Regions from separate parts of the Homo sapiens genome. Here region 1 is linked to region 2. A link means that fine-mapping ties the variant in region 2 to the expression of a gene that starts in the linked region. Tissue or cell type: whole blood. Region 2 holds a variant in brackets; the other region holds the start of a gene. All regions are shown on one strand. Distances are from middle to middle.

Region 1 (5,000 bases), 110 kb before region 2:
ACTAGATGATCTGGATGGCAGTGCTTGTATCAAATGTACCACAAGGGAAAATCTGGGGGAGCACCATTTGTATGTCACTTTGATAAAATAGTTCTGTTTCTGTTGAAAGCATTATTGCAAATTAACAAGAAACTAATTTACCATAGAAAAAGAACAGGTAATGGACATGAATAGATCATTTTCAGTAAATGGTACAAATAATAACATGAAAAAATCGTGTTCAGCATTACTGATTATAAAAAAGTTGATTAAAACAAGATATGATTTTGATTCGTGACATTTTCAGGTTATAAGCAAGGCAATATTTAATACTGGAGGGTATTTTTGCAGCATCACACAGCACCTTAAAAATGTTTCTAAATGCTGATCCAGTATTTCTACTTTTAGGAATCTATCCTAAGGATGTAGAGATCTTGACAAAGATGATGCAACGTAGTGTTCATTCTAGCATGATTTGTAAACTGCAATAAAGTCTGAAAATATCCTAAAACATTTGATAAATGATTGTAATATTCTTCAACCACAGAAATGATATCTTAAAGAAAGTTTAATAACAGTAAAAAATAGTCAATTTATAAATACTTAGTGAGATAAGGAAGATTCTAAACTCTGTAAAGCATGGTGTTAATTTTATAACAAACCTCTGGGCATAGAAAAAATAAGGAAATATACTAAATGCTAATAGAGAGTGTGTGTGTGGGAGTTATAGGTGATTTTAATTAAAAATGTTTTTCTGTGGTCTCTAAAACATAGATGTAAAATTTTTTTTCTAAAATATAGATGTTAAAATTATAAAAATGAACATATATGTTTTTATTCTCAGAAGAAAATAGAACAATTAAAAGGATTTCAAATACCACTTTGACAAAAATGTCAAGTGCATATTGAGATGAATGTATAGCATGATTACTTAGTCACTGTTTCTTGACATCTTTGAAGATATGAAAGAGTTGGAAAGAAAAATCACAAAATCTCTCAGGAAAATAAAATAATTACATACAAAATCATACTACTTCTAAAATTCATGTTTGGGAGTCCATAAGCTTCAGTTCATCTCTAAACAACATATGGCATTTCCTATTTTATTCCTCTATCCCAGGGAGGCAGAAATTCAGTTATTGTAAGGGCACTTAGATAATTTTCTTTCTTTCTTTCTTTCTTTTTTTTTTTTGAGACAGAGTCTTGCTGTGTCACCAGGCTGGAATGCAGTGGTGCAATCTCAACTCACAGCAACCTCCTCCTCCCAGGTTCAAATAATCCTCCTGCCTCAGCCTCCCGAATAGCTTCGATTACAGGAACCTGCCTCCACCTCCGGCTAATTTTTGTATTTTTAGTAGAGCCGGGGTTTCGCCATGTGGCCCAGACTGGTCTTGAGCTCCTGACCTCAGGTAATCAACGCGCTTCGGCCTCCCAAAGTGTTGGGATTACAGGTGTGAGCCACTGCGCTTGGCCTTGATAATTTTATTTCTAATTAGATTTAGTAGAAAGACCTATTGTTGGAGGCAAGTGCCAAATGTTTTCATAGTGACACTTAAGAATTTGGGATGCAATTTTATAGACTGCTGCTTCTCAACCAAAAGCATTATAATTTCTAAAGACAAGCTTGTAAGAATGCAGTTACGTGTGTGCACAAGACTTATCAGACCATCTGTGACTAATAAAGCTTGAGAAAGAGGGGAGGAGAGAGGGTATTCTGCCTTCCAGTAACATGCTTGTCTGAAACTTACTAAACTCCTCTTAGGCAATACTCTGCTCAGAGAGTCATGTGTTTAATTGTAAAAATCTGTCAGTATCATAGGATTCAAAAGACATCAATCATTTATGTCAACAAGGAAAGAGTGAGGGCTGTGTGACTCTTCTATCATTAGGAAAAGATGTGCTCAAGAGACAAAAATGTGGTCTAAGGAGGGCTGAGCAACTGTAGGTTACAGGAAAACTGAGTTCCAGACTATAATTTGGCCCCCCTCCCCTAATTTGGACTGGTATATTATATTTTTCATTTCATGCAATGCCATGTGTGCAGTAAGACATTATGTAACTTGGTCAGTCGCAGTTGTGTAATATCCACTAAATGCTTTAAAGTGGCTGACGTTATTAGCAGTTTGGTGCATGGGGAGGCCATTGCTTCCCCTGGCTTTGGCGGGATGCAATATCGTGTAATGAGGTTGGAACTGGCCTATATTCAAAATTACATTCCCAAAGGGCTGCTATTCAAGCCACATGACAACTGGTTCTCTTTTTCTTAAGACTTTATTCTAAGTGGACTGAAAACAGCAAAATTGCCGTGTTTGAACGGTTCCATAGGTGGAATGGGTCTTTTCCCTGTTTTGCTCCCAATTTATTATTTTATGCTAAGATTTCTGAATTATAACCAGTTTTAGAGACATCGGGACACAAATTCCCGTCCCCCTCCATCTAAGCTGTGTGACCTCGGGCTGGTTCTGAGCCTTCATTTCCTTACCTGTAAATTGGCGATAACACTTCCCTAAGGAGGTGCAAGAAGGCTTATAAAGACTCCAGCAAAGCTCCAGTCTCTTAATTATGTCACCTCAGGCAAGTTATTTAGCCGTTTGATTTGCTGATTCCTTACTTATAAGTTGGACCAGTTGTGGCTACTATCCGCAGTAGTCGAAGAATAGATATCATAGGCAAAGCTCCGGGAAAGGTGGCTGGTCCTTGGCGGCTCGAGAGGACCTGATAATGGTCCTAATAGCGAGCATTCCCTAGGGTGATGCGGTCGAGTTATGAAACTTTGGGAAAAGAGAACAAGGAACGCGGGCGATCAGAGGCCCAGTCGCGAGACCTGCCCCGCTGGGGCCTCCAGCCGGCACCGCGACGCCCCGGGACCTGGCACCGCCTCGCTCCACCCCTGCGAATCCGGGGCGAATCCGGGCGGAGAGTTCCTGCCGGCCGCGCAGCGCAGAGCCCCCTCCGGCCCGCCCTCTCTCCCTCCCTCCCGCTGAGCTCCAGCTGTGCCAGAGGCACCCGAGCCCTGAGAGTCCGCCGCCAACGCGCAGGTGCTAGCGGCCCCTTCGCCCTGCAGGTAGGAGCCGCGCCGAGACCCGGATCACCGGGCGCCCGTGGGAGCCGGGTTTCCACTGCCCTCGCCCTCCGTCCCTCCTCCGCCCAACCTGGGCAGCTGGCCGCTCCCCGCCCAACTTGGACGGGATTTCAGCGAGTGAGTCGGCGGCGGACTCCCTAGCGATCCCCAAGGGCCTCCCTCGCACGCCTTCGGGTGGAATTCCTGCAGGGTGAAAGCTGACAACTCTGGCACGCACTTTTGCCGCGCGGGCGGCTGCCTGGAGCGCAGAGCCGCGCAGGCTCAGGCTGAAGCCCAGGCGTCCTCTGCAGGATGCACCGCCTCGCCGCCACAGGGCTTCGGGTGCAGTGTGTGTGGTGTCCCCAGGTCATCCGGGCGCCCTTGGTTCGGGTGCGCGGTGGCATGACTGGGCTGGTGGGGGCGATGGGACCGGCATCCCGTACCAACCAGGAAGTGCCGCGTCCCAAGGCTTCGAGCCCAGCCCGCAGAGCACGGTCCTGGGGGTGTGATCACAGCTGCTGACCGCGGCTCCCGCCGTGTGATGTGACCACTCGGAGGTGGGGCGAGGGGGCCGGGGGCCAGCAGCAGGGAGTGTGTAAAAGGTCTTCTTCCTCACAATACGATTGAAGGTGTTTGGGACGTAGGGCTCAGATCCAGGAGTGCCGTCCTCCAAGCCTTCCATAGGATTTTGTGACGCCCTTGAGAACCGCCCTTGTAGACTCAGTCCTGAACTACCGCCACGCCTGTATTTGCTCCTCCTCATCTCGGATTATTGCTTTCTTTACTTCCTCTGTGAAGCACTAAATACTAGTAGCTTTTTAAGAACAGACCACAACAGTTTCTTCGTTTGACCATTACTAAGTCTGCCTCCAAAATGGGGAGTTCCGTTAACTTTATCAGCCAGCCCTGCCAATTTTAGTTAAGATAAGCCTTCGTGGGCCTCCAAAGGCCTCTGAGAGACTAGGTACCCAGAGACCTCTGAGGTATGTTAAATGGTTTAGTTCGTGGTGGTGCAATGAAAACTTAAAGAAGGAAAGGAATCTGCAATTTGAACTGTTAACAGACCCCACATTTACACACTGCCTATTTGAATAAGAATCTCTTTCAGTATTAAATGTTTTGTGACACACAAATGAATTTGTACACAGTCTTTTAGCTTGAATTTGTAGACAGCCTTTAAATGTTGTTTGGGGATCTTTGGACTAATTGTATAAGCGCTCAGTCTGGCTTCTCAAGAACCAGTACAGTTAACAATCCATATAAAAAGTTGGAGTGCTGCCTGGGCGCGGTGACTCACGCCTGTAATCCCAGCACTTTGGGAGGCTGAGGCGGGCAGATCACCTGAGGTCAGGAGTTTGAGACCAGCCTGGCCAACATGGTGAAACCCCGCCTCTACTAAAAATACAAAAATTAGCCAGGCGTGGTGGCACACGCCTGTAATCCCAGCCACTCGGGAGGCTGAGGCAGGAGAATCGCTTGAACCCGGGAGGCGGAGGTTGCAGTGAGCCGAGATGGAGCCATTGCACGCCAGCCTGGGCGACAGGGCAAGAATCTGTCTCAAAAAAAAAAAAAAAAAAAAAAAAAAATTGAATGCTAAGGCTTTGAGGAAAAAGTGTCTTTACAATGTTTGTCCCTGATGACAGAATAATTATGAACTATAGTAAGCGCTGTACAATGCTCATTTAGGTTTGTAGACTTACTTATAACCAGGTAGTGGGGAACCCGGCTTCTTGGAAGTTGTATGTTTACTTAGTGTTTCTTAATTAAAATTACAAATTTTATTTACCTTTAACTCTTATAGGTAACTTTTATTTTTGTTACAAAGGAAAAGTAGGACTGTCATTATTATTATTATTATTATTTTTTGAGACGGAGTCTCGCTCTGTCGCCCAGGCTGGAGTGCAGTGGCGCGATCTCGGCTCACTGCAAGCTCCACCTCCCGGGTTCACGCCATTCTCCT
Region 2 (5,265 bases):
TTTTTCAATAGCTATGAAGTCAGTTTCAATTTCTTTTTATTTTCATTATGAAAATATTTTATTCAAGGAATATGTTTATTTTATTTAAATTACCACAAATATTGGCATACAGTTATTTTTAATAGTTATTATTCATTTAATATAATTATAATGCCTCTAGGCCCTATAGTGATTACCTGTCTTTCACTCCTTTTTTTTTTTTGAGACAGGGTCTTCCTTTGTTGCCCAGGCTGAAGTGCACTGACATGATCGTGGCTCACTGCAGCTTCAACCTTCTAGGTTCAAGCAATCCTCCTACCTCAGCCCCCCGAGTAGCTGGAACTACAGACATGAGCCACCATGTCTGGCTAATTTTTTAAATTTTTTCGTAGAGACAGGGTCTTGCTATGTTGCCCAAGCTGGTCTCAAACTCCTGGGCTTATGCAATCCTCCCATTTTAGCCTCCCAAAGTGCTGGGTTTATACATGTGAGCCCATCCTTTCAATCATTTTTTTGTCATTTATTTTTAGCCTTGCTAGAAGTTCACAAATTTTATTGATATTTCAAAGAGTCAACATCTAGTTTCATTGAATTTTCTCTGTATTTTTTCAGGTTTGTATTTCATCAAGTTCTACTCTTATATTTATTATTCCCCCATCTTCTTACTTTGGGTTTAATGTCTTCTTTTTCTATCTTTTAAGAAAGGAAAGTCTGATCATTAATTTTTAATTTTTTGTCTTTCTCATGTAAGCATTTAAAGTCATTAAATCTTCTAAGTGGTACACTTACTTAGAGGTACGTCTTAATATCTCCGCAATCAGGATGCATCTTATGCTCTTACAGTTATAGTTGTCATGATGTTTTCTTTCTTAGTGGTACATGCAGTAACGATGCATCCTACAGTCACTGGTGTCCTAGATCCAATGAAATGTAATATTAAACAATAACTTTGTTTACAAGTAAGTAAAGATTCTTACATAATAATGCTTGGTAAGTTATAGCTGCTTTCTTCTTGCCATGCAGCCATGGTTTATACTTTTATAGCATGATATAACAAAATCTTTTTTTCTTTTTATGCATTATCCTCAAAATTGAGGGCTCCTCAAGAGCTATCTTAAGATTCTTCAAAGTATCTTGTAGAATGCTTAGCATACAAGGGTACACATGTTTGTGGATTAAATGAAATAAATGATGATAAATACTTAATTGCAGAGTATGACATTAAAAGTCTCCCCCATACCGAAGCTCTTTGAGCCCATATTTAATGTACACATCAAAAAATTGCAATTGTATATATGTTGTTGGCTATCTCTCACTTTTGGTGAACTAGCAGTGCACAGCAATGCATTTTACTATTTTAAAACAGATTTCCTTTTAATGCTTCTTTGATCTTTTCTGATCAATTGCTGTGCTTTATTTGTTTGTTTGCTTGTTTGGACATAGATTACCTTTGAGTTTGTTTCCTACTCTCAATTAAATATGCAAGACTTACACTGTCCAAACTCTTCCATTTGTCTGTTTCCTTATTTATTTTACCCAATAACGTTTCCTTTAGAAACTTTATCTCTGGGTTTTTATTTTCTTTAACTGAATGAAATAGAGCATAAAATTGATTTCTTTTAATCTCTTTAGCTCCTTAAAGCACTGTTGATTTCACATGCTTAGAGGGCTGCCTGGGAGGGCAATACTCCAGTGCAGAATTCCATAAGGCTTTCATCCTGACATAGTCTACCTCTGCTGCCTCAGGTCTAGCAGTTCAGTGGAGAAAGGAGTATTTTCTACTGCTTCTTTTTTCTAACTACAGGGAAGTTACATCATGTACATGTTTAACTCAGAAACTAACTTTAGAACCCAGCCCCAGGGGAAAAATGACTCTATTGTACTCTTAGCTGCCTTGTGAAGCTTAGCTTACCTTAGCTGCCTTATGCCTTACTGAAGGAGAAGAGCCTAGGAAAAATTTCATATATCAGCCGACCTTCCTTCTCCCCTGTCCAGAAAGCCCCAGGTTCCCTCAGATGCTGCTTCTTTGTATAGGAAGTCATGTGTCTGTGTATCTATTAGAATGCTTTTAGTTTGGGGTAACAGAATGTTCAACTAAAGAGGGCTTAAACACTGAGGATGTATTTTTCACATTTAATGTTAAGTCTAAAGTTGGGCAATCCTGAGGTTGGCAGAGTGATTTAGTGATTCTGGGGTTATGGTCTTCCCCTTAGAATTTCAATATTGCTGCACCCCTGTAAGCATCATACTCCCATACAACATCCATCCCAAAGCTGGAAGTGTGGGCAGGGCTTTCTCTGAGAGAGAGGGAGAGAGAGCAAAAGAGAGGGAGGGAGAGAGAGCGAAAGAGAGGGAGAGGGAGAGAGAGAGAGAGAGTGTGTGTGTGTGTGTGTGTTTGTGTGTGTGTTTCAGGGAGGAAAAACTTTCCCATTAAGCCCCTGTGTACCTCCTCATATATCTCATTGTTCAGGATTGTGTCACGTTGTGCTCTAGCTGCACAGGAGTCTGGGAAAGCAAGTATCTAGAATATTCAGTCTGTGGTGGGAGAGAGGCTCTGAGAGCAGGGAAGAAGTTGGAGATTGGCTGTGGGTGGGCAACCAACAGTACCTGTGTGCATATGTGAGCATGTGGGTATGAGAGACAGTTAAAGAGGGGGGAGAGAGAGAGAGAGAGAGAAAGAACTAAGATTGATGTTTTGTATAGCTAAAGGCTATTTTTCCCATACGAAGTTGTTCCTAGACTCATAGTAAAGCTTTGGATTACCCATCACAATGGAGGATGATAATGGGGTTGAATTGGGCTGAAATTGCCTTTGCTTCCTATGACACAATCAGAACTTTATATTTTGTTTTAGTTACTTAAAATCTTGGTTTCATTGTTTCAGGCTGAGTCCAGAAATCTTCCTGAAACGCCCAGTGGTTGAGGGAAAT[C/T]GTTGGAGGTTGGACTGCATTCTTAAACGAAAAGCAGTATGTACTTTCCCAGAAAATGCTGATATAATTTTTTAACTGTCTGTTGTCTCTGAAATGCTTTTCTTTTCAAAGCCTTTCACACGTATAACTTTTCACTTTAGAGTTTGACAAAAAGTAGGATAACTAATGTTTTCCAGTTCATTTGGTTCTATTTTATTCCTATTGCTTTTGAGTGCATAAATATTTTAGACTAATTCACAGCATGGATTATGTTAGCATCTCTAATTCTTATTTTTGAATCAGTTATGGGCAGCTAATTTTATAGGCAAAAAAATTATAATAAAATTTCATCATTGAATAATAAATGATGAAATGGAGCATAGCATTTAATTGTATTCATTATTTTGTCATTTAAGCAAAAGGAAAACTCATCTGGAGAATGGTTTCAGCTAGATGGGGCTAATGTGGTGTAGAATAATATTAAAGGGGGAGGAATAGTCACAGTTGGTGGTGTTTTTTCTCTGGTTTTGGTAAAGTTCCTGGTAAAAATGTGAAACTGTTTCCTGTGGAGTTGACCCTGTACATTCTGGGTGAACATTGAATGTGTGCTTTTTAGGTATAAAAAGTAAATAACTGAAGCAGCCTAGGCTCACTAATGACTGCATTCATATTTCTAGTGATTTTTTTAATGTAATAGGCCCTTAAAATTAAATCAGTTTAAATTAAAAATAGATCTGGGATTTATTATTTAGCATGTCCAAATTAGGAAGTGCTAACTTTTTGCTATTATCAGAAACTGTCTTAACCTTTTTTTTTTTTTTTTTTGAGATGGGGTTTTGTTCTTGTTGCCCAGGCTGGAGTGCAATGGTGCAGTCTCGGCTCACTGCAACCTCTGCCTCCCAGCTTTAAGCAATTCTCCTGCCTCAGCCTCCCAAATAGCTGGGATTACAAGTGCCCACCACCATGCCTGGCTTTTTTTTTTTTTTTTTTGTATTTTTGTATTTTTAGTAGAGACGGGGTTTCACCACATTGGCCAGGCTGGTCTTGAACTCCTGACCTCAGGTGATCTGCCCACCTCGGCTTCCCAAAGTGCTGGGATTACAGGCTTGAGCCACCGCTCCCGGCCAACCTTTTTTTATTCTGTCATTAAACATGCTAGCAGAACGTGTGGAGCCTAAATAATTGGGGTTAGCATTTTTCTGTTTCTCATAGCTTTCACTCATTTCTTCTTTCCTATCCTCTGCATTCCACTTTTTATTTCCCCATTCACTTTCCCCTTTTCTTTCTGTATCTTTTCCCCATGCATTTACTTGAGTATTTCTGGGGATATCCACAAATATAGTCAGACCTCACTGCTAATATTGAAAGCAAAAGAAATTGATAATATTTATTTGAAACACATTCTGCCAAACAACATCATTTTGATGGATAGTCTAGTTTGTTTCATCAATAGAATTCCAGTTACAGAATTGGACATTTTGATTCTGAAAACATTATTCACATATTTATTAAATAATTCATCATACGGTTACTGTCTCCTATGAGCCAGCTTCTACGGTAATCACTAAGAATGCCACCATGAATCAGATTTGAACCTTGCCAGTGGCGAACTTGCTGAGGGACTCATGTCTTGGGCTCAGTCCTAGCCTTACCAGACTACTTTCTACCTATTGAATGGGCAGTAACTTTCTCTATGTTTCTCTCAATGAAATGGCATCTTTTCCATTTTCCCTCAAGATTCTATTTTAGTACATTTTTCCAGCCTTGCGTAGCAATCTGTACTAATACTAGTAAATTTTTGCTTATAATATTTAATCAGCACCTCACTGTTTTAGGTTTCAATCAATATGTATTTATTGAATGTTTTCTATGTGCAGGGCATTTGGCTAATCATATGAGGATGTACATAAATAAAAGCCATGATTCTTAAGTTGAAGGAGCTTATAAAATCTGCAGAAGTGTCAGTTGCATGCAGAAACAATGCCCCGATTTAATGGCAAGAGGGAAAGCATTGGGCTTTCCCAATGGAAAAGGTCCAGTTGGGGAGCTCCACACAACATGAAGGATGTGGGGCATTTAGGATGGACAAACATTTTTAAAAGGGAAAGAAGAACTTTCTAGGTGTAGTAGATGTAAACAGCAGTGCCAAAGACTTTGTCAGGCACGGTAGGGTGGTTCATCACATCTGAGTGTTAGCATAGCCGGATGGGGGATTAAGCTGGAACTGCTAGTTGCAGCTGGGATGCAGAGGCTTTGTGAGCCAAGCTAGTGGTTTGACTTTATGGGAGACAGTGGGGCAGTACTGTGCGGGGCAGGGCGGTGTGGGGAAGCAGGGGTGGTCTGATCAAAATAATGTGTCGGACCCCGTCTCTACTAA

Evidence for each region. PIP is the estimated chance that this variant, and not a neighbour inherited with it, causes the effect.
Region 1: it holds the start of PLD1, and the variant in region 2 is fine-mapped to the expression of PLD1 in whole blood (TOPMed, PIP 0.99).

Annotation. Positions count from the first base shown.
Region 1 is chr3:171,808,442-171,813,441 of GRCh38, reverse strand. PLD1 (phospholipase D1) reads left to right here and starts at 2,959. Exons shown (of 27, transcript NM_002662.5): 1 at 2,959-3,043.
Region 2 is chr3:171,697,425-171,702,689 of GRCh38, reverse strand. It overlaps PLD1 (phospholipase D1), which reads left to right. Exons shown (of 27, transcript NM_002662.5): 12 at 2,864-2,945. Among named protein-coding and RNA genes, the nearest start is that of PLD1, 110 kb to the left of the region's middle. The variant C/T (reference allele first, on the strand shown) is at 2,910.